Homo sapiens: one gene and its partners. The protein of the gene in region 4 purifies or fractionates together with the protein of the main gene of each other region. This does not show direct contact. Each region holds a gene or a part of one and is shown on either strand. Other genes may lie near its edges. The genes, in order: GDA, PBLD, TF and MATN3.

Region 1 (7,871 bases), on a different chromosome or scaffold from region 4:
TTTGTAATTTGCAAAGTCCCTAGATTTCCAACTGTGAATGCCTCCAGCTCTTTGCCTAGGAGCTTTCTCAGCTCTCTCCTGTGCTAGAGCCTGCTCTGCCCTTGTTTGGGGACGGCCAGAAGTTCCAGGGAATTAATACTCTTCTCCACTCTGCCCAGGAGCCCTCAACAACAACCCATAAGCATTTGGGTATTACTGTCACAGCCAGCTCCCTCACTTCTTGGGCAGGATAACTTTGAGTTCTGTTTTGGACACTGGTTACCTGAGTTTTCTATTAAATAGAAGGATTAAACTCCGGGAGCCCACAGTGGTAACTTCCGTGATGATACGATCTTCACTGACTTCTTTCCCTTCCCTGTTTTACTTCCCTGAAGGTTTTGTTTGTTTGTTTGTTTGTTTTGTTTTGTTTTTGAGATGGAGTCTTGCTCTGTCGCCCAGGTTGGAGTGCAGTGGCGCGATCTCGGCTCACTGCAAGCTCCGCCTCTCGGGTTCATGCCATTCTCCTGCCTCAGCCTCACGAGTAGCTGGGACTACAGGCGCCCGCCACCATGCCCGGCTAATATTTTTTTTTTTTTTTTTTTTTTTTTTTTAGTAGAGACTGGGTTTCACCGTGTTAGCCGGGATGGTCTCGATCTCCTGACCTCGTGATCCGCCCACCTTGGCCTCCCAAAGTGCTGGGATTAGAGGTGTGAGCCACCACGCCCGACCCCTGAAGTTGTTTTCTGAGATTACAGCCACAAGCATGGGTTTTTAACCTAGCATCCATGGACTGGCATCATGAGATCTATGAATTCCCTGAAATTAGATGCAACACTTGTAATATCCATGGGCTTTTTTCCCCTGAAATTACAGGCTATAACTTATTTATTTTTCTGAGACAGAGTCTCACTCTGTCACCCAGGCTGGAGTGCAGTGGTGCAATCTTGGCTCACTGCAACCTCCGCCTCCCGGGTTCAAACGATTCTCTTGCCTCAGCCTCCTGAGTGGTTGGGATTACAGGTGCCTGCCACCATGCCCAGCTAATTTTTATATGTTTAATACTGATGGGGTTTCACCATGTTGGTCAGGGTGGTCTTGAACTCCTGACCTCAAGTGATCTGCCTGCCTCTGCTTCCCAAAGTGCTAGGATTACAGATGTGAGCCACTGCGCCCAGGCAATAACTTTCATTTTATTCATTTACGGATCCATCACCTTTCAAAAGGTTAAGAACCAGTTAATAAATAACACCTCTGTATTCTGGGGAATTATAATAGGACAAGGTCCTCCTGGGCTTGCCTGTGTGGGCTGGCATTCCGTCAGGTCCAACAGGGTAACATACATCATAGTGCATTTGCTTTGGTATTGCTGTGTTTCCTTCTCACACTACAGCACAAACAGTAATGGGAGTGACTACCCTCTTCTGGATTTCCTGGCTGACATATGGGTTCTTTCAGTACTTTCACTGTAAATTTTTTATGTTGTATTCCCTATTGTCCTTTTTTTGTACAAACTCAGAGATTTCAGAAGATGCTGTGCTCTTCACGTGTCCTCTGAGATAAATGTCCTCTTACGTGTTCTCTTTTACTCCTCAACAGCACGAGTAAATGTCTATCTATCTGGGTCCTGCCAAACACAGAATAGAGGGGAGATCCTGGAGGAATGACAGAGGAAACAAAGGCATTTGGCTGCTAATCTGCAACCCAATCATTCGTAATCTACCAAACAATCATTGTCTACTTACGATAAATTAGAATTGGGACAGTGTGCGATGGATGCTCCTCGTTCATGGAATACGTTCAGTTCTTCTGCAGAGAGGTAGCAGCCGTGTGCCATCACTGTCTGGAGAGAAGAGTGCCCTACGTGGAGTTTACCGCTCACAAATGATTAAGTGGGTACTCACTCACAAGGTATTTTAGAGAGAGACCGAAGCTGTAGCTTGGCTGTTAGCATCTTCACAAGAACATTTATGATGATCTATATGTACAAAGTTGCTAGGTACAAGTTATACCTTAGAAAAGGCCTGTAAACACATTGTCTTACGAAAGTCTCAGGAAATTTGTGGAGTTTACTTAGATTCTTTTTGTTGATCTATAAAGTAATGAGGGTTTGGTCCAGGTGATCTACAGCACAGAATATCCATCCAGATGGAAGATAACATGATTTTCTCATCTCTACTTTAGAAGACTGTCAAGTTACTTTCTTTTCTAAGTTTATATGGGAAGCAACTGGTAGTGTTGTGCTTGCTCCAATTCTAAAAAAACTTTCTAGAACTAAAAGTCCCTTCTCAGTATGTGAAAGCTGTGAGAGTAATCCTGCAAAGCGCTGTTCTTTATTTCTGCTCCTAGCTTCAATGTAAGTGCCAATGGCCTTGATATTTTCAACTAAATAAACTTTTAACTCACCTACGTTTATATTTTCATAAAAACTAGGAAATTTAACATCTTATAATCATTAATTCAGAAAGTAAAATTGATCCAAGAAAGCAGGCACTGCACACACATGAGACCTCTCTAAATTTTTAATGTTGGTAGTATTTATTTGTAGATTTTCTTAAATAAGACTTTACTCTTTCAAAATTATTTTTCTCTCAGTACAAAACCTGTACCCAACTTGCTTTCCCCTTTGAGAGGCACGGTTCAGTGACTACAGAATTATTATTTTTCTGAGACAGAGTCTCACTCTGTCGCCCAGGCTGGAGTGCAGTGGCGCAATCTCGACTCTCTGCAAGCTCCGCCTCCTGGGTTCACGCCATTCTCCTATCTCAGCTTCCCGAGTAGCTGGGACTACAGGCGCCTGCCACCACGCCTGGCTAATTTTTTTGTATTTTTAGTAGAGACGGGGTTTCACCGTGTTAGCCAGGATGGTCTCGATCTCCTGACCTCGTGATCTGCCTGCCTCTGCCTCCCAAAGTGCTGGGATTACAGACATGAGCCACCAGGCCCGGCCCAGTGACTACAGAATTATTATTAAAATATAACTTTCCCAATCTCTGTTCAAATAAAATTAACATGCAAATGGAAGGTTAATTTATTAATCATATGGAAAATATATAAAGAATGAAAACTATGGTGTAGCTTTTACATGATTTATGCAAAGTATTAACCTTTTAAATCAGTTATATTCATATCTCCATTCACACAGTCACTAAGAAATTATTTGCTATGGTAAACTCTCCATGCGGTTTGTACATTTCATTGAAGGCCAAGGCCAAGTAGTACATTATTGTAATGAGGTCTCTTCACACATATTAATTTTAATTATAGGAGTAATGCATACTCATTTTTTAAAAGCACTCTCAGAGTATTTAAAAATAAAAAGCAGAAAGTCCTTCTGGTTTGTCCCTCAGGAAGAGTCATTTTTAATACTCAAGTTGTGTCTTTCAGACAGTTTTTTTCTAAGTAAGCATGCATCTATACATATGTACATACACATCAAATAATATTACACAAACATTCTTCCTTGTAAGCCTGCATACCTCTTTCTTTGTGAATGCTGGATAAAATCCTATGTATGCTCTGTAATTTAATCCCTCACCGATAACAATTTTTAAACTTTAATATAAAATTAGCATCCCTATTCATATTACTTAGAGTGAATTCTTAGAAATGCATCTGCTGACTCAAAGAAATGTAGGTTTACATTCTAATAGATACTGTTAAAATGTCCTTGGACCAAATGACATTCCCATCTTCAATGAAGCCTTTACATTTAATTCACTAAGATGAAACTTCGGGTCCATTTTTAACTACACACACACACACACACGCACACACACACACACACACACACACACTAGGCTTTACTCTAATTTAAGAAATGTATACACATGTACCCCATAGATATATAAACTTTCTGTGTACCCACAAAAATTAAAACTTTAAAAAAAATTTTTAAAGAAATGTATTCATATCAGAAATCTGAAGATTACTATTGAGATTTTAAAATTGAGATAAATATGCCCTCCTTTAAACAGATTATGTCATGATATAAAACTTACCTTATTTGTCAAAAGATTGTTTTTATCATACACAGATGTGTAGTTTTTATAACTGGGGTATAAGTTTTTCACAGCTTCAACTTCATCACGATTTTCACTTATATGGCTCTACAAGAAAAAAATAATATTTTCATTTTTCTTCTGTAAAATACCATTAGAAATTACACTTCCTACCTCAAAATGGTGTGAATGGTTTTCTACTTGCCTATTTAAGGGACCACATAGAAAGGCAATGAAGATTACACATGCATTTTGTTAGAAACAATTATATTCATCATAGATAATATAATGTATATGACAAAGAAACTGAATATTATGAACATGTAGTGTGTGTGTGTGGATGTGGGTGTGGGTGTGTATGTGTATGTATAATATCAAGACAAATTTTTCCAACAAAGTCTTTTCAAATTCTGACCTCCAGCTGGAACAAATATGAAGTCCTCCTTGAAGATAGTCAGGACCCTAGCAACCTGCCTCTTCTGGTGCTGGCCTTTCTTTTGTTTTGAGATAGGGTCTGGCTCTGTCGCCCAGGCTGGAGTGTAGTGGCACAATCTCCACTCACTGCAACCTCTGCCTCCCAGGTTCAAGTGAGTCTCCTGTCTTAGCCTCCTGAGTAGCTGGGATTACAGGCATGTGTCACCATGCCTGGCTAATTTTGTATATTTAGTAGAGATGGGGTTTCACCATGTTGGCCAGGCTGGTCTCAAACTCCTGACCTCAAGTAATCTGCCGGGCTCAGCCTCTCAAAGTGCTGGGATTACAGGCGTGAGCCACCGTGACTGGCCATACTGGCCGTTTAAGAAAAGAGCTCAGTGTTCATAAAAAAGCAGACAGTGGGGTTCACTTATATGAACACTGGAATTTGAGTAAAGAGAGCTGGGTTTGGCCCAAGTTCTGACAGCTATGTGTCCTAGAGAAAGTCATTCTTTTCTTTGGACAGCAATTTTCCCATCTTTCAAAAAAAAAAAAAAAAAAGGGTTGGGCTAGATGAGTGATTTTCCAAATTCTCTCGGCACTGAATATATTATTCATATAAAAATTCACAGAAACCCAATATATAGAAGGCATAAAAGCACTGCCCCTCCGGATGCAGCAGGATTGAGACTCTGGGACCCTGTCTCCATTCTGTGCCCTTTGTTAGTTTCCAGAATGAGTTCTCCAAAAAAGAGTTTGAAAATAGCTGAGCTAGAAAATTCCACGGTCATCAAGAAACAGCCCATAAGAATCCACATGCAAGCAAAACAATAAGTCCTATGCCCCCACACTGAAAAAGGCCCCTAAGACCTTTCTCTAGGGCACCACAAAATCTAAGAGGGCATAATTAATACTTCCAAGAATGGCAATGCCATTTAGAATATGCGTAGCTAAATTTTTAAAAGAAAAAAATAGCAATGTTCTGAAAACACGTGTTTTACTCAGACAATGAACTCCATCCCTGGCCTTGAGGAAGTCCCAGACCACCGATGAAATGCATGGACAGCAACAGAAGAAAGGACAATCTGATGATTCGAGTCATTTGGATAAATGTGAGTAAATGTGCATACATCCACATGCATCTCTCTAGCAAGGATAAACTTGATTTTGTTGTGTGTTCTTCTCATCTTATTTTTCATGTATTTTTAAATGTTCATGTGTATTTTATTTTGTCGGCGACAGAAGCATTTTGTTTGCAAAGCAGAAACATCAGGTAAGTTTTGAATTTTATCTCCAGCAGAGAAATGTGTGGGACTGAATTAAAAATTCAAAAATTATAGGCTGCAAATAATAATAACAATAATAGGGAAGGTGAGAGCGGTTAATGGTTCCTAAGAAAATAGATTTGGGAAACAAAAACCAAAAAAACACTGATTTACAAATGGTAAAGAATCAATGTGTTGTCTCTGCCCTGATCTGACCTTTCTTATAAGACCGTCAACTCCTAAGAGGAGAAATTTTAGTACAGTATGTAATTAAGCTTGGATGGGAGAAGGGGAACTCTCAATTTTAACCCAGATATAAGCTTTAAAAAAGTGTTTTATTCCTAAATTGCAACAATTTAATGACAAAGCAAGGTATACTTTTTTGTTCTGATTTTAAATTAAGAAACTCAGAACAAAAGGGATTTTAAATGCTATTTTGTAAGGTGGAAATTAGGCTCTTTTTGCTTTTCAAATAATAGCTGGTTTCTCTAAGAATGAAGGTACAGAACACACTGAGAAAGTATCAAGTGAAAGAGAAGTAGGAAATAAATGCATTAAATGTATCCTACAGAGAACAGATCACAGTCTGTTATTGATCTTGCCACTACTTAAAACGATTTTCTTGTCTTTAGAAGACTGATCAGAAAACATTGAGGGTATAAGGAACTTCAGGTTTCTTATCTGCAAAATGAAAGAATTGGATTAGGTGATATCTACAGGGGTCCTTTCTCTCCTGTTATGCTGTGACTCTAGGATATCTCAGTTGAAGAAACAGATTACTCAGTAAAACAACTACAGATTATTGGAAATGATGATTTAAGGGTGCTGAGAAATCTTGCAGGTCTGCATAGAGGCATAAAGAGAAGAAGAATACCCACCTGAATGTGCAAATCACGGGTTTTAGCAATGTTGCCCAGTTCACCCATCAAAGTCTCAGAGCAGGAGAGGGAAAAACGTGGTGTCACTATGGGCTTCACTCTAGAATACTGGAGATAATTAAAAACAATTGATACCTCTTCCTTACATCATATACAAAAATTAACTCAAGATGGATTAAAGACATAAATGTAAAACCGAAAACTATAAAAACCCTGGAAGGGCCAGGTGTGGTGGCTCACACCTGTAATCCCAGCACTTTGAGAGGCCAAGGCAGGTGGATCACCTGAGGGCCGGGAGTTCGAGACCAGCCTGACCAACATGGAGAAACCCTGTCTCTGCTAAAAAATACAAAATTAGCTGGGCGTGGTGGCGCATGCCTGTAATCCCAGCTACTCGGGAGGCTGAGGCAAGGGAACTGCTTGAACCTAGGAGGCGGAGGTTGTGGTGAGCCGAGATCTCACCATTGCACTCCAGTCTAGACAACAAAAGAGAAACTCAGTCTCAAAAAAAAACAAAAAACCAACCAAACAACAACAAAAAAACAACCTTGGAAGACAACCTAGGCAATACCATTCAGGACATAGGCATGGGAAAAGATTTCATGACAAAGACACCAGAAGCAATTGCAACAAAAGTAAAAATTGATAAATGGGATGTAATTAAACTAAAGAGCTTCTGCACAGCAAGTGAAACCACCAACAGAGTAAACAGACAACCAACAGAATGGGAGAAAGTTTCTGCAAACTATGCATCTGACAAAAGTCTAATATCCAGCATCTATAAGGAACTTAGACAAATTTATAAGAAAAAAACAACCCAATTAAAAAGTGGGCAAAGCACATGAACAGACACTTTTCACTGTTTTACATATGATTGATGCAGCCAACAATCACATGAAAAAAAAGCTCAACATCACTGATCATTAGAGAAATACAAATCAAAACTGTAATAAGATACCATCTCATACCAGTCAGAATGGATATTATTAAAAAGTCAGAAAAATAGCAGATACTGGTGAGGTTGTGGAGAAAAAGAAATGCTTATAGACTGTTGGTAAGAGTGTAAATTACTTCAACCATTGTGAAAGACAATGTGGTGATTCTGCAAATACCTAGAGACAGAAATACCATTTGACTCAACAATCCCATTACAGGGTATATACCAAAAGGAAATAAATCATTCTGTTATAAAGACACATGCACACATACACTCACTGTAGCACTATTCACAATAGCAAAGGCATGGAATCAACCTAAATGCCCATCAATGATAGACTGGATAAAGAAAATGTGGTACATATACACCATGGAATACTATGCAGCCATAAAAAGAGAAT
Region 2 (7,000 bases), on a different chromosome or scaffold from region 4:
CGCCTGTAGTTCCAGCTACTGGGGAGGCCAAGGCAGGAGAATCACTTGAACCTGGGAGGCTGAGGTTGCAGTGAGCCGGGATCATGCCACTCCGTTCTAGCCTGGGTGATGAAGTGAGACTATGTCTCAAAAAGATATAATAATACAATATAATAGCTAGTAGTTATTGGGCACTTACTAGGTGCCAGGCACTGTATTAAGCCCTTAACATGCATTGTGCTTTTATAGCCCTATGAGGTATTATATACAATTTATAGAGGAGGGAACTGAGACTTTTAAAAGTCAAGTCACTTGCCCAAGGTCAAAAGCTAGGAAGCTAGGAATGTAAACCCAGGCTGTCTGACACTCAGGTTTAACCCTGTTATCCACCTGCTCTATTTTATGTTTTTCATGGAAGACTTCAGTGAAGGGATGGCAGGGATGGGGAAAGATAGAGGAACAAGGCAGCTCAAAACTCAAGCCACCTGAAAGGTCACAGGAAGTGCACTTAAATAACTATTTGTGATCCTCCTCTTCCATTGTTTAACCCTCCCCTGGGCTCAAGTAAAAAGTACCTGTCACTGGGTCTTCAGCCACACCAACCCACGGTGCAAAATATCTTGAGTAAAAGTCAAATGCTTGGGTCTGCCCACCAGGCTCTCCTTTAAGGGTAAGAATAAGCCCTTTCACCTTCCCTGTGTTTTCAACTTGCAGCAGATTCTCCGTGTTCACTTTCAGGTTCTCCAGAAACGACCTTGTTCATAAACAAGATGGATTAGGACAAACCCATTTCACAGCCCACTCACCACACAGACTCTGTGAAGCAGGCCAGGGTGCAGCTTGCTCAAAGAGCTTAACAGGAGGGGAAGGAAGAACAAGTGGGAATGTCTTCCTATCAGGGAAAGAAACACTCTGGCTGCGTAAATCATGGTTTGACTGGACACAGCACAGCCAGACTAAGGAAGAGCTATAAATCTGGGTACTCAGCCCTCCCCAAAGTGCTGATGCAGCCAAAAATCTTACCTGTTGTAAACGTCACTGAGGCGGACGAGGAGCTTTTGGGTATCTGGAGAATAACAGATGTCCTGGACCAGTGTGTTGCCTATGGCAGTCTGTGGAGACAGACCAAAAACTCCTCAGGGACATGCCCTGGGCCAAGTCCTTGATCCCCTGAAATGGGAAATGACCTCTCATTGAGCATCCACTGTGAGCCAAGCATGCCCATCGTCTCCAGTCCCCAAGAGTGTTAGTGCAGTTTCAGAGCTTAAGGTGTTGCCCAAGGATGGTCAGTCTCCTGGCTACCAAAGAGGCCTCTGTGAGCCTCAAAACAGGCATTGTGGCCAGGTGCAGTGGCTCACACCTGTAATCCCAGCACTTTGGGAGGCTGAGGTAGGTGGATCACCTGAGGTCAGGAGCTCGAGACCAGGCTGGCCAGCATGGCAAAACCCCATCTCTACTAAAATACAAAAATTAGTCGGGCATGGTGGTGCACTCCTGTAATCTCAGCTACTCGGGAGGCTGAGGCAAGAGAATCACTTGAACCTGGTGAACCAAGAATCACTTGTGAGCCAAGAATCACTTGGCCGAGATCGCACCACTGCACTCCAGCCTGAGAGACAGAATGAGACTCTGTCTCAAAAAAGAAAAAAAACATAGGCATTCTCACAAGTGCCTACTATGTGCCTCAATGCACAACTCCTTCAAGTAGGTATTCTCCCCACAGAGAAGGAGAAAGAGACTTAGAAAGGCCAAAGATCACACACACACACACACACACACACACACATATCTTGACCCAGGTCTGAGAAGGTCAGAGAAAAAGCTCTAAATCCCTACTGTCCATCATCTTTAGAGATGGAGGGGCCTCATGTCCACCTCTTAGAGCTGTGAGGATTAAATAAAATCGTATATGTGGAGTATCTGCAGCAGCAATTAGAACGTTCCACACGGCAAGCACTCAGGGCTAGCAGCTTGATTGGAAGGAGGGACTAGAGGGCTCGTCCTGTGCTGCTCTGCTTGGCAAGCACACCACTTTCACTCAGATTGTATGTGACAGATCAATAACATAACATGTTCTCAAGATACCCTGGTTCACTCTACCTGACTGCACATAATCTTGCTGAAATCCAGGAACATCATTTGTTTGTATGTTTGTTTGAGGGTGGCTTGGGGCAGAGGGGGATTATGAGGAGACAACCCCTTCCCACACCACCAAGTCATCCTTTGGCACCAGCCCCAGCTGCCAGGCCCAGCAGATGGTAATTACATGGTAATTGTATGGCAGTCACTAGGTGGCTTCAGGTTCTCTAATCCTTGTTAGAGGCCAAGATACTCCAGTTCCCACATCCAGAATTCCTTCTGCCTTGGGTGGTACTTGGGCTTTCTGCCTCTGTGACTATGGGCTGACCAATGTAACTTCCTCAAGAAATGGGAACTCCTACAGCCGGATCCCATCTGTTCTCCAGAGCCTTAGTCTCTCGAACCCAGCCCTTATCTGCATGAGTTTGTACATTGATTTAAAAGTTCAGGGGTGGGCGCGGTGGCTCACACCTGTAATCCCAGCTCTTTGGGAGGCCGAGGCAGGCGGATCACCTGAGCTCAGGAGTTCGAGACCAGCCTGACCAACATGGAGACACCCCGTCTCCACTAAAAATACAAAATTAGCCAGGCATGGTGGCGCATGCCTGTAATCTCAGCTACTTGCGAGGCTGAGGCAGGAGAATTGCTAGAACCCAGGAGGTGAAGGTTGTGGTGAGCCAAGATCACACCATTGCACTCCAACCTGGGCAACAAGAGCAAACTCCGTCTCAAATAAAAAAAAAGGTTTAATTCTTGGCTGGGAATCTTACTGCCAGTTTCTAGGGAAGAACACAAAATGGCAATACTTACAACCCTTTGTTATCCCATTTAATAAATGCTGACCCTGAGACTAAGTTGAGTTCTTTCTACCATGAACAAGGTCTACCATTATAAGTTTTTTCCACTTTCTTACCAGTATGTTTAAAGCAGTTTGTTTTTAAATTTGGCTTGTCTCCAAAACCCAAGCCATGGATGGGGTTGAGTATAAAATCAGAATCCATCATGCTTATTTGTTTATATTCTTTGAAAACACAGATAAAGCCAAATACTAGAGACTACAAATGCTGTAGTTAAAAATTCACTGAGAAATACCCAAGTAGTACTCACAATAGACTAAGCTACAGAATCATTTTTCTCATGACAGCCCTTGCCCTGGTCCTGACCTGGGCCCTCTCTTCTCTACACACCAAGCCCCTGGTCATCCAGGGCTGCTCTGGCCCTGCAGAACCTTCATGGGACAACTGCAGTGCCTACCTTACTGAGAAACATTGAGAATTAAATGGACAATGCAAGTGAAATGCTCAGCATGTGGCACTGCACACAGAGAGACTCTCAAAATGTTTCATCATCATTAATATTATTAAGCCCCATGCCCACACAGACCCCATGAGGAGCCCATGTTCTGTATCTTGTCTTATCTGCAAGGTACTCATGCTTTCTTGGTTTCCTCTATCAAAGCACAGCCCTCCCCCACCTCAGTCCCATCCTTTACTACAGAAACTGGGGACACTGACAGCTGCCAGGAAGGTTCCATTTTTTCCCTCCATCTTGTGTGTATGGATTTTATGGAATGACCTCTTTCTGCCAGAAATTCCCAACTTTCACACCTGAACTTGCACAGCCATGCTCGGGGCCCATTCCTCTCCTTCTAGCTAGAGAAGCACAGAAATTCAACATCCCTTAATTTCCCTAAAGGCTGGTCTCCTCCCAGAAACTTACATTTCCTTAAGACATCCTATTCTCCCTCTTCTTTACCACCTCCATTGGTTCTTTTGTGCCTTTCAGCCTGTCATATAACAGTGTCTCTTCCCTCCATCCTACCATGGGGGCCAGCAGTGACAATCAGGAGCCAAGGAAAACTGGTCAACCTTCTCACCAAATAGACTGAATATTAAAATTCAAACCTGAAACACTGTAACATTTATATTGGTAAAATGCCTATCTTTGTGGATCAAATGATACCAAATCTTTGTGTGCAAACAATAACAAATAACTAGGCTCAGGTTTGATTCTTTTTACCAACCTTTATCAAGTCCTCTACTTCATGGAAGTCCTAGATGGGGGGAAAAAAAACAAAATTATTATAAAACAGGAGAGCTGTCGGTTGTAGATGGCTTAGGGCAATAATTACAAAGAGCTGACCTGGGGGTGGGCTGGATAAAGAGGCAAGTCCAGGACGATGCCATCCTCTGCTCGTCTGGCCCTTAGTTCTCCACTCAGAGTGACAAACGTGAGCGTGCTATTCATGTTTTCTGGCCAAAATAGGAATCAAGAAATAGGAAATAAACTTTGTCATATATGCGCATGTCCATTTCAAACACCTTTGCATTGTCTTAGATTTTCTGGCACTGTCATCCTTTTCTATGATGGAGCGAGGTTTGGGTTGCTGAGGTCTAGAATGGAGAAAACTCTCACTAGATTCTAACTTGAGAACCAAGAACATAACTGATCAGATGTGGCGTCATACTTCAAGGCTTCAGATCCCAGCTCTTTACTGCTTACTGTGCCCTTACTAACTTAGCCTCCTTTTTTTTTTTTCTTGAGACATGGTCTCACTGTGTTGCCCAGGCTGGAGTGCAGTGGCACGATCTCAGCTCACTGTACCCTCTGCCTCCCACATTCAAGTGATTCTCCCACCTCAGCCTCCCAAGAAGCTGGAATTACAGGTGTGCACCATCACATCCAGCTAATTTTTGTATTTTTAGTAGAGACGAGGTTTTATCATGTTGGTCAGGCTGGTCTCAAACTCCTGACCTCAAGTGATACACCCACCTCGGCCTCCCAAAATGCTGGGATTACAGGCGTGAGCCACCACACCTGGCCAGCCTCCTTAAATCTCAGTTTCCTCATCTATAAAATGAGGTTAATACATTAAACCTACCATTTATAATGTTTTCTCTTTCTTTGAGGAACTGTCTCACTCTGTTGACCAGGCTGGGGACTGGCTCACTGCAGCCTTGACCTCCTGAGCTCAAGCAATCCTCCCACCTCAGCCTCCCCAGTAGCTGGGACTACAGGCATGAGCCATAATGCCTGGATAATTTTTAAATATTTTGTAAAGACAGGGTCTCACTATGTTGCTCAGGCTGGTCTCTAAGTTCTAGACTGAAGCAATCCTCCCGCCTTGGCTCCCAAAGTGTTGGGATTACAGGCATGAACCACTGCACCCAGCCTGTAATGTTTCTAATACAGATTTTAAAATATCCAGCAGCAACAACCATAGAGTCATAACCTCTTCTAGTCTAAGATACGCCAAGGGAATAACAAAACATTTAAGTTGTAAATATCAGTGTTATATGAAATAAATTTGGTTTATCCTAAATGAACCAAACTTTTTACATAACAATGTAATTTAAAGAATGCACCACAAATGTTGGCATCCCATGTTACTGATACAACTTGGGCTACTTATCAGTGTGTATAACATTTTTAGTGAAAACAAAGAATGCTGACCCAATTCTTTTCTCTCCCTTAATATTTCTGTAAAACTTAAACCACATGTCAAAGGTGAAGAACTTTGGCTTGTTAACTTTTATTGAGCATAAAATTGACATTCAGAAACACAAAGCTTAATTTTTCTCATTACGATTTGCATAAGACATTATTTACAAAGCATTTTTTCATACCTTATCTTATCTAACCTGAAGACTGCCCTATGGGGGTTTCCAGGATGTTATTATTCCAAACCTCAGCATCAAACCAACCCACGTGGAGTCCAGTTTTCAAAAGACACTCAATCTTGCTTTGGGAGGCCGAGGCGGGTGGTTCACCCGAAGTCAGGAGTTTGAGACCAGCTTGGCCAACATGGTAAAACCCCATCTCTACTAAAAATACAAAAATTAGCCAGGCGTGGTGGCAGGCACCTGTAATCCCAGCTACTTGGGAGGCTGAGGCAGGAAAATCACTTAAACACAGGAGGCAGAGGTTGCAGTGAGCCAAGATCTTGCCATTGCACTCCAGCCTGGGTGACAAGAGCAAAACTCCATCTCAAAAAAACAAAAACAAAAAAACAAAAGACACTCAATTTAATTTCAGTAAACCCTATTTTTCAAGACTCAATTCCTAAACATTTCGGAATGTTTGCTTGCCTTTTGCACATGTCCCCTATCCACAGATACCAAAATCATCTTTTTAAAATGTATATTGAATTACATTATATGGCTTCTCAACTTTATCTCCTGCCAATCATATAGACAGGCCCCAGGGACTTTGCACTTGTTAGCCTCTGCCTGGGATGCTCCTCCTCTCGCTCTAGCTCATCCCACAGATGCTTCATCTTATCCTTTCGCCCAAAGTTCCCCTTCTCTGGTGGGTGCTGATCCATATTCTATGTCTGACCCATGGCCTCAGGACTGGGACTCCATGAGGCAAGGAAGTACCATAGGGTACAAAATGTAAGGAGACACCTGCTCTCAGCTGCAACCTGGGGCCTTGCTGGCTCTGCCTACACCTGGCCCTGACCCTGCTTGCCCAGAGTGCTAGTGGCCAACAGCTCTCAACTGAGTCACTCTCTTGGAGTTACCTTTGGCTGAGTAGAGCTACCTTGCCCAAAGTCATACATCTTTTCCAGGCTTTGGGAACTGGTCCATGGAGGGTAAAAAGGCCTGAATCTTTGCCTCTACTTGGAACTATACTACTTGAAAAAATGTCCAGCTTTAGAGCTCCCCACGGATTTGGCCTAGGCCTTTCCTTGTTGCTACTACTCTGCAGTTCAATTTCTCCCTCTATTCAATCCTACTTTCTTTTTCTTCTTTTCCTCGAGGTGGAGTCTCGCTCTGTCGCCCAGGCTGGAGTGCAATGGCACAATCTCGGCTCACTGCAACCACGGCCTCCCAGGTTCAAGCGATTCTCCTGCCTTAGCCTCCTGAGTAGCTGGGACTACCGGCGCCCGCCACCATGCTCAGCTAATTTTTGTATTTTTAGTAGAGACGGGGTTTTGCCC
Region 3 (7,871 bases), on a different chromosome or scaffold from region 4:
TATTCTATTTCAGTTCTCAGAAACTGGTGTTCCAAATGAGTAGTATGCATAGCAACTTTATGGTTACCAGAACCTATCATTGTTGAAGCTGTCTAGAGCAGCACTGTCTGAAAGAGCTTTCTGTGATGATGCAAACATTCTCTTTGCTGACCAATATGGAGCCACATGTGGCTGTTGAGCACTTGAAATGCAGCTAGGTGGGATTGAAGAAATACATCTTTTATTTAGTTTAATTTTAATTAACTTAAATTTAAATAGTCACATCTTGCTGGTGGCTACCATATTGGACAAGGCAACTCTAATCAAAAGTTTACTGCAGAGCAATGGCATGTACACATAAACCCAGTCCTTTTCTTAGAAATAAGATGGAATTCTCTATACCCAATAAGTTCACTACCTTAGTGCTCTGAGCCTGTATCCCCTTACTATCTGCCCCTACAGTCTAGCCTGTCATACATGCCGGGCTTAGATTGTTCACTCACCATTTCATTTTGTCCATGTTGTCCTATCCCAAGGGCCACAGCCTACCCCTCCTGTACCCACCCACCATCCCAGCACTCACCACCATGTTTGGTTGCCACTTCCCCATGCTGTTCCTCCTACTCACATGAGGTGGAGCATTTTCTCAGGTTACCAACAGCCTTGACATATTCTTCTCCTAAGTATTTTTCATATGTGTTTCTGTCATGAAGTTTGGCCAAACATACTGTGTCATCTCTGAACAGAAGGTCCTTGGTTTCCGACCGGAACAAACAAAAGTTGCCCGAGCAGTCAGTTACGTTGCTTCCAAATAGGTGCTGTCAAGTGAACAGAAAGTCCGTGAGGACCTTGTGGTCTTTAGCAGCTGGGAACACATGGATGAGAAGAGTCTGAAAGCTCTGAACCAGCCCTGGGGAAAAAGGGAAGCTACGGAGTATGTCTTGGGAATTTTCCACCTCCTTTATCTGCCATTTATCCACTTAGGGCCCCAGCTGCATGCTTTCATGATGCCCCCAAAATCATCTATAGGGTCCCTGGTCCCACCTTCCTCTGATAAGTCCCTCCCACCCACACCCATGCCTGCCTACTCTGACCTCTCTTCCCCACTTCATTGCCCTTCACTGGGGGCTGCTTATAGGAAATGAGAGGACAATAACATGTCCCTTCAGATGTTATTGTCAAAGAAGATGTTAAATGTGAACCCTCCCAGAGGAGTGGCAGAGGTAGTTCTTAAAAGTTCATGTTTGACTGCATTTTGAATCCTTTCTTGGGCAAGCCACTCAGCTTCTCCAGATCTCCAAAGGTTGTAAGTGAAATGATGACTGCAAAATGTTGAACTTTCCATATAGCAGCTAGGAAATGTATGTTAAATGCTTATTATTGTCATGTACCTTAAAAGGACTTCAAATATACTCTTATTTTTTTTAAAAAAAGGTAATGGTGAATCAACAGCAGGCAGCTATGCCCAAAAGGAAGGTGATGTGTGTGTGTGGAGGGGCCTTTAGGATTAGAATACTCAGGCAGCCCCTGTCTTCAACAAGGCTGGCCCTGAGTGGTTGTTCCCCCAGAGGGCAGGCTCTCCGAGGGCAAGGGTCCTGTGTTTTTCAGACTGTTGAGAACAGTGCTCAGTCTGCCTAGGCAAGAGGAACAGAAATCCACTCTTCATGACTCGTATCAACAAGCGCTGGGAAACAGGAGCTGTCTTCTTCATTTTCGGGAAGGACAGGAGTAGGGGAAATGAGGGTACCCCTGAACAAGGTTAGGGGGAGCAGAAAGGCAGATTCCTAGTCCCAAGAGTACATGGATCAGATCTAATCACCAGTGACCAGGAGCTAGAAGCAGAGCTGGGCCTGAGAGGTCTAGTTCCATAATTACACAGCTAACATATTTTGAGCACGTCCTATAGGAAATGGAATTTTCCTATGCCGTTTGGGTGCATGTCTTCACTTAATACTCATGTTAACTGAGAAGTAGGTAAAAATATTATTATTACAATTTTATATATGAGGAAGCTGAGGCATAGAGAGGTTATGTAACATACCCAAGATGGCACAACTAGGAAGCTGTGGAGCTGTGATTTGAACCCTGATACTCTAGTCCACAATGCATGGCATGAAATGCACAATGCATGGAATTCTAGTTTTCAAAAAGAAAGTGCTGGAGTCATGGCTGCACTTTGTTGTAAACTCCCCCCGAATAGCCTATGGCCATCTAGGAAGAAAAGGTGGGAGGACCTGGCTGGTCCATACCTGCTGTTGACGTAATATCTTGTGGACGCAAGCTTCCTTATCTTTCCGTGTGACCACAGCGTGATTCGGGGCTCTGGCCAGGTGGCAGTTCGCATACTCCTCCACAGGTTTCCTGGTACCATCAAGGCACAGCAACTCATAGTCTTTTTCATTCAGATTCTTAGCCCATGGATCAGGGTTTTTTCCTAGGGACAGGAAGAAGGTGGTTCAGCTGATGGCTTTGGTCAAGGTGCCCCGCTGGGGAGATGGAACTGACTCAGTGGTGTGTAGAGAACCTGGGCCTTCTCGCCAGCAGAAGTGCCCACACTGGGGTTACAGTGATGTGGACAGGAAGAGACACCCATGTGGTCTACAAGGTGATGCCAGACTCACAGTGACCAGGAATGATTATTGACCATCCCCTTCCAACCTTCCCTACCCAGCCAGGTGAGAATGAACTACATTCTGCAGATGCTGTTCAAAAAGATCTTCAATTCCACTAAATTCCAATTCCTTCTGTACCTCTTGCTCCAACAGAGGAAGAATGTGACGCTCTAAGCCAGGTTGATCAATTTCTGTGCTGTAACACATGGCATCTCCAAACAAAAGAACTTTTCCTCAGAGAACACCTTTGGAATCTGCACCAGAATTTTAAATCTGACTCCCTTGTTCCAGTTCTAAATGAGAATGTGCACACACCTGTGTGATACAGGTCTGTATCCCATCTCGGCCCCTTTGCCTCTTCTTTTCTGTATTGTCTCTGAAAAAAAAAAAAAACTCACCCATTCTTAGGGTTTCAGCTCCTTCCTCCTGAGCCACTTTGCAAATATGTTTTGCTAATTTTTATTTCTCTCCCATAATTCAGAATTGCAACCTTTTTAAAAATGTATTTTTCATTTAATTTTGTTTCTTTAACCGAATAACTAATACATGAGATCACACTCATAAATTTTTGAATATCTCTCTATATTAACTAAAAGCCTCCTTTCCTATACTCTCCAAATCTCACTCAGTCTTATAGTGCTAGTCTTTAATATCACATTTGCGAGTTTCCATCCACGGCTCATTATATGTATTTTTCTACGTGTGTATATGGATTTCACATGTTTCTAATTTTGTTTAGTGTTAGATCTTGACAAATGTAAAACTCTGTAGCTTTTTTTTCAACTGTTTACATACCTTATAGATTCTTCTTGTCAGTACATACAAATCAAGCTCGTTCTTCTTAACTACTGTATTATATTTCATAGTGTGGCTATAATAGTATCTTTAAACCATTCCTCTTTTAATAGGCATCTGAGGTGTTTACAATTTTTTGCCACTAAAGTAGCGTTAAAATGAGTGTTACTGGCATATAATTGTGCTTACATAGAAGTGGAATAGTTAGTTCAAAGGGTATATGTATTTTTATTTTATTTTATGTTATTTTATTCATTTATCTATGATACTATGTTCTCAGCCCTCTCCAAGGCACAATCTTATTGGAGGGGAAAATAACACACATACCAAAACAAAAAATTCAGGGCAGGGATAATAATATTTTATATTTTGTAAAACACTCTAGATGCTGTGTGAGCTCAAACCAGGGCTTTGAGAACAAATGAATTAAGAAGCTGGCTGGAGGAGGCAAGATTTCAGTTGTCTCTTATAGTGTGTGTAGGATGAGAGGAGGAGAAAGGAATGCCTCTCTGCGGGAGGAAAGGAGAGTGCAGGCGAGACTGGGGGCAGGTGTGTGCCTGGTGTTTCTAAGGGAGAGAGGAGACCGCCTCTGGAACCATCTCAGGCAGTAGGGTATGTGAGGCACTCAGGCAAGAGGAAAAGTGGGTTTGTGAGGACTTATGAATGGAAATTGATGTTAATGAATGAGCCAGAACCTAAAGGTAGAAAATTAAGAAAAATCAAATGGGAGGTGATTCAGTCTGGCTAGGAGGGCATCTAGAAGGGCATGTTAAAAATATGCTTTTTCAATAAAAATAATACACGTTTATTGGTGGAAATTTATAAAATGCCACGTAAGTATTGGGAAGAAAATTTTGAAGCATTTGTAATTTCATAGTCTACGCCTTCAAAATTGGTACATTTCTAACATTCTTTTTCCTACACACACCTATAATATGCACATACACACACACACACACACACACACACACACAAATTGTGATAAAAGAGCCCATGTGGGCTGAGCGCGGTGGGTCACACCTGTAATCCCAGCACTTTTGAGAGGCCGAGGTGGGCGGATCATGAGGCCAAGAGATGGAGACCATCCTGGCCAACATGGTGAAACCCCGTCTCTACTAAAAATACAAAAATTAGCTGGTCGTGGTGGTGCACGCCTGTAGTCCCAGCTACTTGGGAGGCTGAGGCAGGAGAATCACTTAAATCTGGGAGGCGGAGTTTGCAGTGAGCTGAGATCACATCACTGCACTCCAGCCTAGCAACAAAGTGAGACTCCATCTCAAAAAGAAAAAAAAGAAAAAAAAAAAGCCCACGTGGTTTTGTGTCTTCCTTCTTGTATATACCATAGCACTTAAGACAGATTTTGGAGGAGGGAGAGAGGGGGGCAAGAGTTGAAAAGCTACCTGTTGTGTGCTATGCTCACTACCTGGGTGACAGGTTCAATCATACCGCAAACCTCAGCATCATGCAGTATACCATGTAACAAACCTGCATATGTACCCTCAATCTAAAATATAAGTTGAAAAAGCAACAAATTAATAACAGAAGAAGGTAAGAAGGTGCAAAATATAAGTATGATGAATCAGACATGATGTGACTTACATTTAGTAATATTTATCAGGAATGTGATATTAAGTCAGGGGTATTAGACCAGTAGTTCCCAAACTTACAATACATCAAAATTACTTTGGCTCTTAAAAATCATGTTGTCTACCTTAAATACACACAATTATTTCAAAATTTAGTTTGAAAAAAGACACGTTTTGAAGAAATAAGATATTGACTGACAGACTTAATCTAGGCCTGATGGGCAGGGAGTATAGCAGGATTCTCTATAAGGATAGAGGCTGGGAGAAGAGGAGGGAACGTTGACAGAAAGATGAGGACAGTTGAGTTGTATATGGATTGTATATATACAACTACAATATATGAGGACATCCATATACACACGTAAAAAAATACAATTGCAATGCCAATGTACTCTCTACATAAAAGTGACACCTTGGGAAATAGACTGGAATGGAATTGAGATTGGATGTCAGGCCTCCTATCTTAATTCTATGCAGGAGGGAAGAATTTTTGAGTCATTGCAAAGAGTAAGAGAGTCAAAGCTTAAAGAAGGGAGCTCTACTCAGAAAAGTACCAAAAGAAATCAAGGGTGGCAAAGAGCCAAGCTTAGGGTAACACTCTCTTAAAGGAAAAAGCAATAATACGAGGGAAGAAAGGAAAATTAGTCAACCCAATATTTCTGCAAACAAATTCTTAGCAACTGCTGTGTACTATGTGCTACACTAGGTTCTGGGAATATAAGATGAAGAAAAAGAGCTCAAAGAGTTTCTGTAGCCAAAGTGTATTACAGAGTGTGGTGAATTCAATCATAATGGCAATATGAACAGAGGAGTCTTCTTGTAGGACAGGGTATGCCATCTGGGAAGGCTTCCTGGAGGGGCTGGTGCTGAGCCGGTTCATTCTGGATGAGTTGCCCAGGAAAAGTGAGGAGTTGGGGAATGAACATGAGAGAAGGCAGGGAAGTATTCACAGCTTGAATTCCAGTGGGCTCTGCTAGCACTTAGTGATACTGAGGGGTCAGGTGTGGAGTGCTCAGTCTGGCCAATGTTTGTTTTGCTTTGTTTTGTTTGTTTTTATTAATATTATGGCTGTCCAACGTTCACCCACAAGTTAACACCCATTGATTCTTTTTTTTTTTTTTTTTTTTTTTGAGACGGAGTCTCGCTCTGTCGCCCAGGCCGGACTGCGGACTGCAGTGGCGCAATCTCGGCTCACTGCAAGCTCCGCTTCCCAGGTTCACGCCATTCTCCTGCCTCAGCCTCCCGAGTAGCTGGGACTACAGGCGCCCACCACCGCGCCCGGCTAATTTTTTGTATTTTTAGTAGAGACGGGGTTTCACCTTGTTGGCCAGGATGGTCTCGATCTCCTGACCTCATGATCCACCCGCCTCGGCCTCCCAAAGTTCTGGGATTACAGGCGTGAGCCACTGCGCCCGGCTTAACACCCATTGATTCTTGCTTGAATCAGTTATCAATATATTGGTTGCCAAGTGATAGTTTTCTAACTCTATCATTCCTTCCACATTGATTAGTTTTCCCTTCTTCATTTGTTTAATCAGTATTGCCTCATGCATTCTTATTTCTTTCAATGGGCTATTATCCCTTACTGCTATCATTATTTATTTTAATGCTCAAAATTCCCAGACTTGGCAACAGGAGATCCTTCAAATTGGTTCTTGTATGCTTTGAGTGTCCCATCACTGTTTGAGCACTTCAGTGTGTTGTTCTAGGCTCAGCATCTATTTTTCCTGCCCCAGCCCTGAAGTCAGCTATTTTTCCAAGGAGTTCTGGTTCCTTTTAGTAAAGAAGAGTACTTACAAGCCAATATCTTGGTGCTTACTCCTGCTGGTATGCCATTGCCTCTAGGCCTTCTCAATGGACACAACCCAGAAGTACAGTAAATAGCTATAAAAGGCATTACTGGGATAACTGACAACAGTTAAATGTGGACTGTGGACGTGACGAGTATTAAATCCACATAATGTAAAAGATCCTGATCTTGGTAATCATACTGTGGGTATGCAAGAGATTGTCTTATTCTTAGGAAATAGGCACTGAAGTATTTAGGGGAAAGGAGCACAAGGCTTGCAGCTGTGGGAGTGTGTGTTGGGGAGGATTTAGGGCCATTGGGGGCCCCATAATCCTGATCATTCTGCGCACTCAGGTGAACATGTCTCTCTTCACTGAGCAGACAGACTGAGAATCAGAGCTTTGAAGTCTGACAGTGTACATAATACTTCCACAAAGGCATCCCTGAATACAAGTGAATACCAGTGACCAGGATCTAGTGATCTAGGGGGACAGAGGAGCAGGTGCACTTACCCCCAGTGTTCTGTGGGACAGTCTGGTGTTTCACAAAGGCCACATCTCCCTTCTCAACCAGACACCTGCAGAGGTCCAGAAGTGGGAGAGAAAAAAAAAGGCGGTCAGAGTGACTTATCTGTCATTCAGGGGGCTACCTTATAGATTCAGGACAGCCATCTGAAAACAGCAACTGTAACTTCCATTCTAACAGTAAGCAATGTAAGGAATAAAGAGAACAAAAACAAAACACTCTGAATTGATTGTAGTTTTACAATCTCAGTTCCACATACTAAATCTTAATTTTTTGTACTGTTTCTCTGAGAGATGACATAATTTCCCTGACATCAACAAGGATAGTAGGGAATTGATTTTCAGTGAGGTGATGCCTCCCCCAGCATATGAATGAAAAACTCAGTTCCTTCAGGTTCTCATACAAGGCGAATGTCTAGGCAACATTTGTGAGAGACTGAAACTCCATCACAAATTGCAATTTGTGCTGTCCTTCATTCCTTTGAAAAAGAATTTTAACATTTATGGAGCATTTGCTATGTTGTGGGTTTTTTTGTTTTTGTTTTTGAGAAATGCAGAGAATATGGCAAAACATGGCATAAAGGCA
Region 4 (7,871 bases):
CCAACCCTCCGGTCTTGGCTCTTTCACTAAGAGACCCTGTGACATAGGTAAGTTTTTTCCCTTCTGTCCATCTCAATTTCATTATCTATAAAATTAAGTTATCTCTAAGCTTTCTTCCTCCCAAAAACTTTTTTCTAGGATTAAAAACAAAACAAAAAAATATATAATTCCCATTCCTCATTGACTCCATGTATGTATCTATGTACCAGACCAGTGAGTACCCCTCTAACTTCTTTGCTACTTCTAGATTCCATGAGCATCTATGACTAGAGAGGAAGAGGGTAGCTTGCATGTAATGAAATAAAATCCAGGAAAATTTTCAAATCCTCAAAAGGGCTAAGAATCTTGGACCCGTTTCTTTTCCTTTTTGTGTGTGTGGGTTCTGTTTTCTGAAAGAAGGTCTCCCTCTGTGGCAGTGCAGCAGAGGCATTATCATAGCTCACTGCAGCCTCGACCTCCTGGTCTCAAACAATCCTCCCATCTCGGCCTCCCAAGTAACTGGGACTACAGGCATGCACCACCACACCTGGCTTTTTTTTTTAAATTATTTTTTGTAGAGATGGGGTCTCACCATGTTCTCGAGGCTAATCTCGAATTAGCCTCAAACTATCCTACCATCTCAGCCTCCCAAAATGTGGGAATTATAGGCATGAGCTACTGCACTCAGCCTGGACCTCTTTCTTAGTAGCCTTTTCTCCTACGATTTTATTTAAAACTTACAAAGTATGGAAATAAGCTGATTTATCTATCATTTCACTTTTCTCCCTAAGCTCCTTTTCAGGGAAAACTGCTGATGAACACCAGTAAACCAGCCAAAAGGCAGTTAGGTAAAAAGGGGTCAGAGAGTCAAAGCACAAGGCCAGTCCAAAACCTGGAGCATAGGTTCCCAAGTATTTGATTCAGTCACGGCCCCCTACACAGGCCTCACCTGAACACGTTTTCTTGTCGGCATTCAAGGTGTATCCTTGGCTACACTCACAGTGGTGCTTGCCTTCCCCATCACTGATGCAGACGTGCTGGCACTGGTGTGTTCCAAGCACACAGGGGTCCAGCGCTGTGAGAGGAAGTTTACAACAGTCAGCACTGACACTTAGGAAACATCTCAGATACCGTCTCCCATGTCAATAGACATTGCTCTCTGGGCTCCTTTCCGAGTCCATCTTTACTTCACTATAAAAAAATGGTTATTTGTTTTCTGCCTCTGGCTTATTAGCAATGCTACTCTTAAACTAGAAATTGTTGCTAATTTAAAAGTACACATCTTGCTATATAGACTTTCTCAAGGGAGAAAGGGAATTTGGAGTTTGGAGCTGAAGCCAAACACTTACATAGGCCAGGCAATTGGATGTTTTATTTGGCTTATCCGCCTCCCCATGAAAAAAAGATTTGTGCTTCCCCACCACAAGAAATGGGAGAACAATAAATGCACAGCCTGAAGTGACGTGAGCTAGTTGTCCCATTGTAGCCAGAATCTGATTTCCAAGGTTCTATAGCCTATGTCTAAACAGAATTCTCACACAAGTCTGGGTCTAAGCCTAGAACGAACTCACAGGTGGGCAGTGGTACATATTTGAACATGCAAATGGTAGAGGACAGTTCGGGTAACTGTCTTCTGAATATGTAAGGTGGGTGAAGTCATCCATACGCTAAATCCATAGTGAACTCATATGCTAATACAAACAGGTAAAAAGAAAAGAACAAAATAAATGAGATTACATTAGCTAAACTACATCTCCATCTTATTGCTCCTGGAGCCATTTATATCTCATTGGATATTTTTTTCCTAGTGACCTCTTTTGAAAGATGAATCAATGAATTAAGTCATTTCTGAGAAACCAAGGAGGCCTGTTGAAGGAGGCTGGCCCTCCTGTGGCAGGTAACCCAACCTCCACTGCCCTTGGCAACAGGACAAGGCTAATATTTTCCCAAGAAGGGCCTTTTCATGGAATGATCTTTCCAACCCGTTGACTACAACAAGCTGCCGCTCAGTCTTTTTTCCATAGAGAGGACGTTTTTCCCCCAGAACAAGCAGGTCTTTTGTACCAGAAGGAAAAGATTGCCACTCACCACTTGTTACTTTATAGCCTTCGAAGCCCAACCCCAGGTGCTAGCTTTGAAACCCAACTTTGCCACAGACCAGCATGTTGATGGAGAGGCTCTCACCCACAAGCATGGAGTGGGAGGGTGATTTCCTGGGAGAAAGAAAGCCACTTTCTTTTTGGAAGCCAACGAATGCCAAGTAGATGCCACCAAAGCCAGTGATGGCTTGTGAAAGCCCAGTGTCCTGGGACAGGAAAGACAAGGGGATCCCAGCCAAGTCTGACTGCAATGAGGCCAAACGTTGCCCCAGAGCAAGACTTCATCTCCCTTTTCCTGACAAACCATTGATGGCTGCGTTTCACATTAACCTAGATTAAAAGTCTCCTTGAAATGTATAATTGTAATTAATTATTGGTTCATTTGTTTGTCTCACCCCCACCCCCAGAATGTTACTTAATGGTATGGAGGGATTACCTTTATCTTTGTATCATCAGAGATCAATAAATGCATGCTGAATAAATAAGTGTGAAATAAATTATATTGCAAAAAGATATCTATGTTTAAAAATTCACCTGAACTAGAAATTTGTCCACAACTGCTTGGATATTCACATAGAGGGAACAAAAGATTATCTCCAGATGATAAAAAAATAAAGCATGAGTCCCACAGATCATAATTCTGATCAGTGACTAAAATTAAACTCCAGCATTGAATGGATCTGTAGTCCTAGATTTGGTCAATTCATGCTAAAAATTCCAATAAAATTAGCATGTCCTTATTCAAATTCCATCCTAAAGGATGGAAGGAGTAGCAGAGTTAACAGAATGATTTCTTAAGATCATCTTGCTTTCTTTCAAGTGAGCTGAAACCCTAATCTGCCTGGTCCCTGAATCCTGTTCTTCAACAAAGAGTAATCAGATAAACAGCCCAGTCTGAAAACCAGAGCATTCACTAAATGCACACTCGGGCTGACGGTGACATTGGAATAGAGGCCTGCTGACTCTCCCAAGGACAGACGCTTCTCCCTGTCTTCTGCAGGAGAACAAACAGAGTTCTGTTAGATCTAGAGATGGTAAAACTAAAAAAATATGTATCAGGGGAAAAAAATGTAGTGGTGGGGCAGAGGGGACAGGAGAGGCATCTTGAGTTTTGTTTTTCCTGACCCTGACAGGGAACAGCAGGGTCATTTATCCTGGATATTTGCAGACCTTCACAGTTCTAACGCAAACATGAAGATTTTATGAGCAAACCAAGTTCCATATAATGCAGCTCTATATTCCTAAACCAATAGAGTGTGTTTAGGTTGGTCGCACACACGCGCGCATGCACACGTGCACACACACACACGCATTGGATATATTTAAGTTTTTCATTAAATTTCCACCAAAAAAGAATAATACTCTTTTCTCTGGGTACACAATGTCTGAATATAACATCCTTTCTAGTTGGAAGCAAAGACTGACCAACTTACCACAGAAGGTTTCCTGGAATCTAGAGGAAAGTTTCTCAATGACCCCATAGGTCTCCACGTAGAAAACATGCTCCTCTAGGGGCTCACTGGCCATCATCTTGAGGGACGCCATGTCTGCCCGGTCCACGCCCACAGCATAGAGCTCAATACCAGATGCTTGGGCCCGAGCCGCCACCTCATTCACCTGGTCCTGGGGCCTCCCATCTGTAACAATGATGGCCACCTTAGGGATGTTAGAAGAGGGCTCTCGAGCCCCTGCCTCCACTGTGAAGGCTTCGTCCATTGCTGTCTGGATGGCTAGGCCTGACATGGTGCCTGTTGACAAGGGTGTGATTCGACCCACGGCCTGCTTCAGGGACTGCTTATCTGTGTAGGCCTGGAGTTGGAACTCGATCTTCACAGTGCTAGCATAGTTCACCACTGCCACCCGCGTGTCGGCTGGCCCAATGTCCAGAGTGTCGATTATCCGGGAGACAAAAGTTTTCACTTTGGTGAATTCCAGGGGCCGTACGCTACGAGAACTATCAATGATAAACACCAGGTCCAAGGGTCTGCTCTTGCAAACACCTGCAAAAGACCAAGCAATGATCAGACCACAATTAGAAATGCAGTAATCCTCACTTCCAGAGAACTCTGGGATTCCAGGAGGCCAGGCAAGGCAGCATCTCCTGACCCCAACATCACCACTGCCTGCGACCTTCCCCAAGACCATCGGGGTGTTGAAAGCACCAAGGACTTCAGAATTCCCTAGTGAGAATTCACCTGGAGGTGTGAAGTTTCCCCAAATACCTCACCTGCAGGCTGGCTGAATCCTGAAATTTCACTTAGAACCTCATCCCTCTGCTTAAGCTTTTGCTCCCAAGGGCCCTCATGATTCCTGGGAATTAATAGATTCTACACATTTCTTAAGTACCTTGGCTATCTGGAGCAATTGGACAATGTGTCCCTGAACCATGTAAAAGGCCTTGGGCCCTCAGGGACAGCCTCACTGCCAACCACTGTGCCCAAGCCTCAGGCAATGGTAGTCTGAGGCAAGGCACTCAGGGGCTCTTCTGGTGGCCCCCCTCTTTTACTCCACTTCCAAGGGGCTGAAAACTGCTCCAGAGTATCCCTGAATTCTCCCTCCATCTGGCCATCTTTCCTGTTTAGTGAATTTGGGGGCTCACTGGAGCCCTGAACTAATTTAAAGTAGAGCCAGGCGTGGTGGCTCATGCCTGTAATCCCAGCACTTTGGGAGGCCAAGGCGGGCAAATCAAGAGGTCAGGAGATCAAGACCATCACGGTGAAACCCCGTCTCTACTAAAAATACAAAAAATTAGCCGGGCGTGGTAGTGGGTGCCTGTATTCCCAGCTACTCGGGAGACTGAGGCAGGAGAATGGCGTGAACCTGGGAGACAGAGCTTGCAGTGAGCTGAGATTACGCCACTGCACTCCAGCCTGGGCAACAGAGCGAGACTCCGTCTCAAAAAACAAAACAAAAAAAAAAGTAAGTAGAAAGAGGGGCCCGGGCGCGGTGGCTCACGCCTGGTAATCCCAACACTGTGGGAGGCCGAGGCGGGAGGATCACCTGAGGTCAGGAGTTTGAGACCAGCCTGGCCAACTTGGTGAAACCCTGTCTCTACTAAAAATACAAAAATTAGCGGGTCGTAGTGGCATGTGCCTGTAATCCCAGCTACTCGGGAGGCTGAGGCAGGAGAATCGCTTAAACCCGGGAGGTGGAGGTTGCAGTGAGCTGAGATCCTGCCATTGCACTCCAGCCTGGGCAATAAGAGCAAGACATCATCTCAAAAAAAAAGTAGAATGAGGGATGCCAACTTAATCTTGTATCTGTTTAGTGAGCTTCCAGCTTCATGAGCATGTCTCGTAAGAAGCAGGGATTGTGATCTGGTATCTACCCTACTGCCCCAACTAACTCTCTTGGTCATCTCTCTTTTGACTTATTCATTCACCAAAAACATTTTTTGAGGGCCTACATGTATGAAGCCCTGGAGCTACAAAAGCATATAAACCAGATAGCCAGATTTCCCACCTTCAAAGAATTTATCTCTTTTCTACACAAAAGTACCTAACAGTTTAGTATCACAGTACATTTTAGTGTTCATCTATTCTTTCCTGTTCTTTCCTGTTTCCCCCAACCCCTGTTTGCACACCCTCTCTCCTCGATACAAAAATCAAATCCACAAGTCAGGATGAGACAAGAAAAAAAGCCAATTATTAAACTTCTTTTTCTTTTTTTTGAGACGGAGTCTCATTCTGTCACCCAGGCTGGAGTGCGGTGGTGCAATCTTGGCTCACTGCAACCACCACCTCCTGGGTTCAAGCAGTTCTCCTGCCTCAGCCTCCTGAGTAGCTGGGACTACAGGTGTGCGCCACCACACCCAGCTAATTTTTGTATTTTTCATAGAGACGGGGTTTCACTATGTTGGCCAGGCTGGGCTCAAACTCCCAACCTCAGGTGATCCTCCCACCTTGGCCTCCCAGAGTGCTGGGATTATAGGTGTGAGCCACTGTGCCCAGCCCTAAACTTCTTTTTCAAGTCATTCCCCCTTCTCACCCAACACACGCATGCAGCCCTAAATGGAAATGAGGTCCTGGGGCATGAAGTGTCACTCAAGGCTCTTTCCTTTCCTAATAAGGAGGCAGAAGTTGATGCTACTCTAGGAAGGTAATACTTAGTAGGAAAAAAAGGTGATTCAAAATTAATGCCTAGACTAAGCAGTTTATAGAAAAAAATTAAAGCCTTACCTGGAACAGCCTACCTTATGTCTCTGTCTAGTTTTCTTTTAAAAGCAGAAAATTATCTTCTTGTTTTTAGCCTGCTGCTTGGAGGTATTTAATTAACAAAAAGAAAATCTTCCTTTCAGTAACACTTTAGGAATCGCAAGGTACCAACACATCAACCTGTGAGGCTGGAGGTGCAGAGGTGGTTTTTATATTCATTTTACAGGTGAGAAACCTGAGGTTCAAGGAGGTGTGAGAACTAGAAAGTGGTAGAGCATGGATTGGACTCCAGGTTTCCTGACTCCCAGTCCCTGGGAGCTTGCTACTGAATCCCAGTTACCTCTCTCTGAGGCAACATTTTCCTCCACAAAAATCAACATTCTCTCATGTATTCAGTAAACATCCTGCTTGTTGACTTTAAGTCACCGCCCTGAAATATGCTGTATGTCATGCATTTAGTTAAGTCAAAAGGAATTAAACCCAGGCGCAGTGGCTCACGCCTGTAATCCCAACACTTCGAGAGGCTGAGGGAGAAGGATCACTTGAGCTCCGGAGTTCTAGACCAGCCTGGGCAACATAGGGAGACCTCATCTCTATAAAAAGTTTAAAAATTAGCCAGGCATGGTGGCAGGCACCTGTAGTCCCAGCTGCTTAGGGGGCTGAGGCAGGAGGATCGCTTAAAGCTAGAGAGTCAAGGCTGCAGTGAGCCACAATCACACCACTGCACTCCAGCCTGGATGATAGAATGAGACCCAGTCTCTAAAAGCCAAAAAAAAAAAAAAGGAATCAAAATTCTTTCTTTCTTTAAAAAAAAAAAAAACAACTCCAGCAGCCATAAAAAAGAATGAGTCCATGTCCTTTGCAGGGACATGGATGAAGCTGGAAGCCGTCATTCTCAGCAAACTGACACAGGAACAGAAAACCAGACACCACATGTTCTCACTCATAAGTGGGAGTTGAACAATGAGAACTCATGGACATAGGGAGGGGAACATCACACACCAGCGCCTGTCAGGGGGTGGGGGGCAAGAGGAGGGAGAGCATTAGGACAAATACCTAATCTATGTGGGGCTTAAAACCTAGATGATGGGTTGATGGGTGCAGCAAACCACCAGCGCACATGTATCCCTATGTAACAAACCTGCACATTCTGCACATGTATCCCAGAACTTAAAGTAAAATAATAATAATTTTTTAAAAAGATCTGAATAGGAAACATTTGTCATCTATTGTCTCTAAGGGTAGCCACTATAAGACTTCAAAAGAACATTGGTCTTTACAGTCTTTTATCTTAACCTGAACATTTCCTTTCTATGGATCCCAGGTCTTTAGGCAAATGCAACCAATTATCAACCAGAAAATATTTAAACTTACCTATAGCCTGGAAGCCCCTCACCACCACCGGCTTTGAGTTGTCCCACCTTTTAGGACCAAACCAATGTATTTCTTAAATGTATTTGATTGATGTCTCATACCTCCTTAAATTGTATAAAAACAAGCTGCACCCTGACCATCTTGAGCACATGTACTCAGGACCTCTTGAGGGCTGTGTCACAGACCATGGTCACTCATGTTTGTCTCAGAATAAATCTCTTCAAATACTAAAAAAAAAAAAAAAAAAAAAAACCTCCAGAATTTT

What was found.
Region 1: the proteins of MATN3 (region 4) and GDA purify together in Homo sapiens (affinity purification with mass spectrometry; 2 studies listed by BioGRID and IntAct, with this or other methods). This does not show direct contact.
Region 2: the proteins of MATN3 (region 4) and PBLD purify together in Homo sapiens (affinity purification with mass spectrometry; 3 studies listed by BioGRID and IntAct, with this or other methods). This does not show direct contact.
Region 3: the proteins of MATN3 (region 4) and TF purify together in Homo sapiens (affinity purification with mass spectrometry; 3 studies listed by BioGRID and IntAct, with this or other methods). This does not show direct contact.

Annotation. Positions count from the first base shown.
Region 1 is NC_000009.12:72,221,891-72,229,761, reverse strand, and holds part of GDA (guanine deaminase), read right to left. Parts: intron 6,643-7,871; coding exon 6,535-6,642; intron 4,086-6,534; coding exon 3,978-4,085; intron 1,820-3,977; coding exon 1,722-1,819; intron 1-1,721. UniProt on the Homo sapiens protein: Catalyzes the hydrolytic deamination of guanine, producing xanthine and ammonia.
Region 2 is NC_000010.11:68,287,929-68,294,928, forward strand, and holds part of PBLD (phenazine biosynthesis-like domain-containing protein), read right to left. Parts: intron 4,311-7,000; coding exon 4,201-4,310; intron 4,112-4,200; coding exon 4,082-4,111; intron 1,150-4,081; coding exon of another isoform or gene 1,092-1,149; coding exon 1,003-1,091; intron 734-1,002; coding exon 555-733; intron 1-554.
Region 3 is NC_000003.12:133,769,975-133,777,845, reverse strand, and holds part of TF (serotransferrin isoform 1 precursor), read right to left. Parts: intron 7,339-7,871; coding exon 7,274-7,338; intron 2,414-7,273; coding exon 2,229-2,413; intron 798-2,228; coding exon 608-797; intron 1-607. UniProt on the Homo sapiens protein: Transferrins are iron binding transport proteins which can bind two Fe(3+) ions in association with the binding of an anion, usually bicarbonate.
Region 4 is NC_000002.12:20,002,233-20,010,103, forward strand, and holds part of MATN3 (matrilin-3 precursor), read right to left. Parts: intron 4,079-7,871; coding exon 3,512-4,078; intron 2,575-3,511; exon of another isoform or gene 1,788-2,574; intron 1,055-1,787; coding exon 929-1,054; intron 1-928. UniProt on the Homo sapiens protein: Major component of the extracellular matrix of cartilage and may play a role in the formation of extracellular filamentous networks.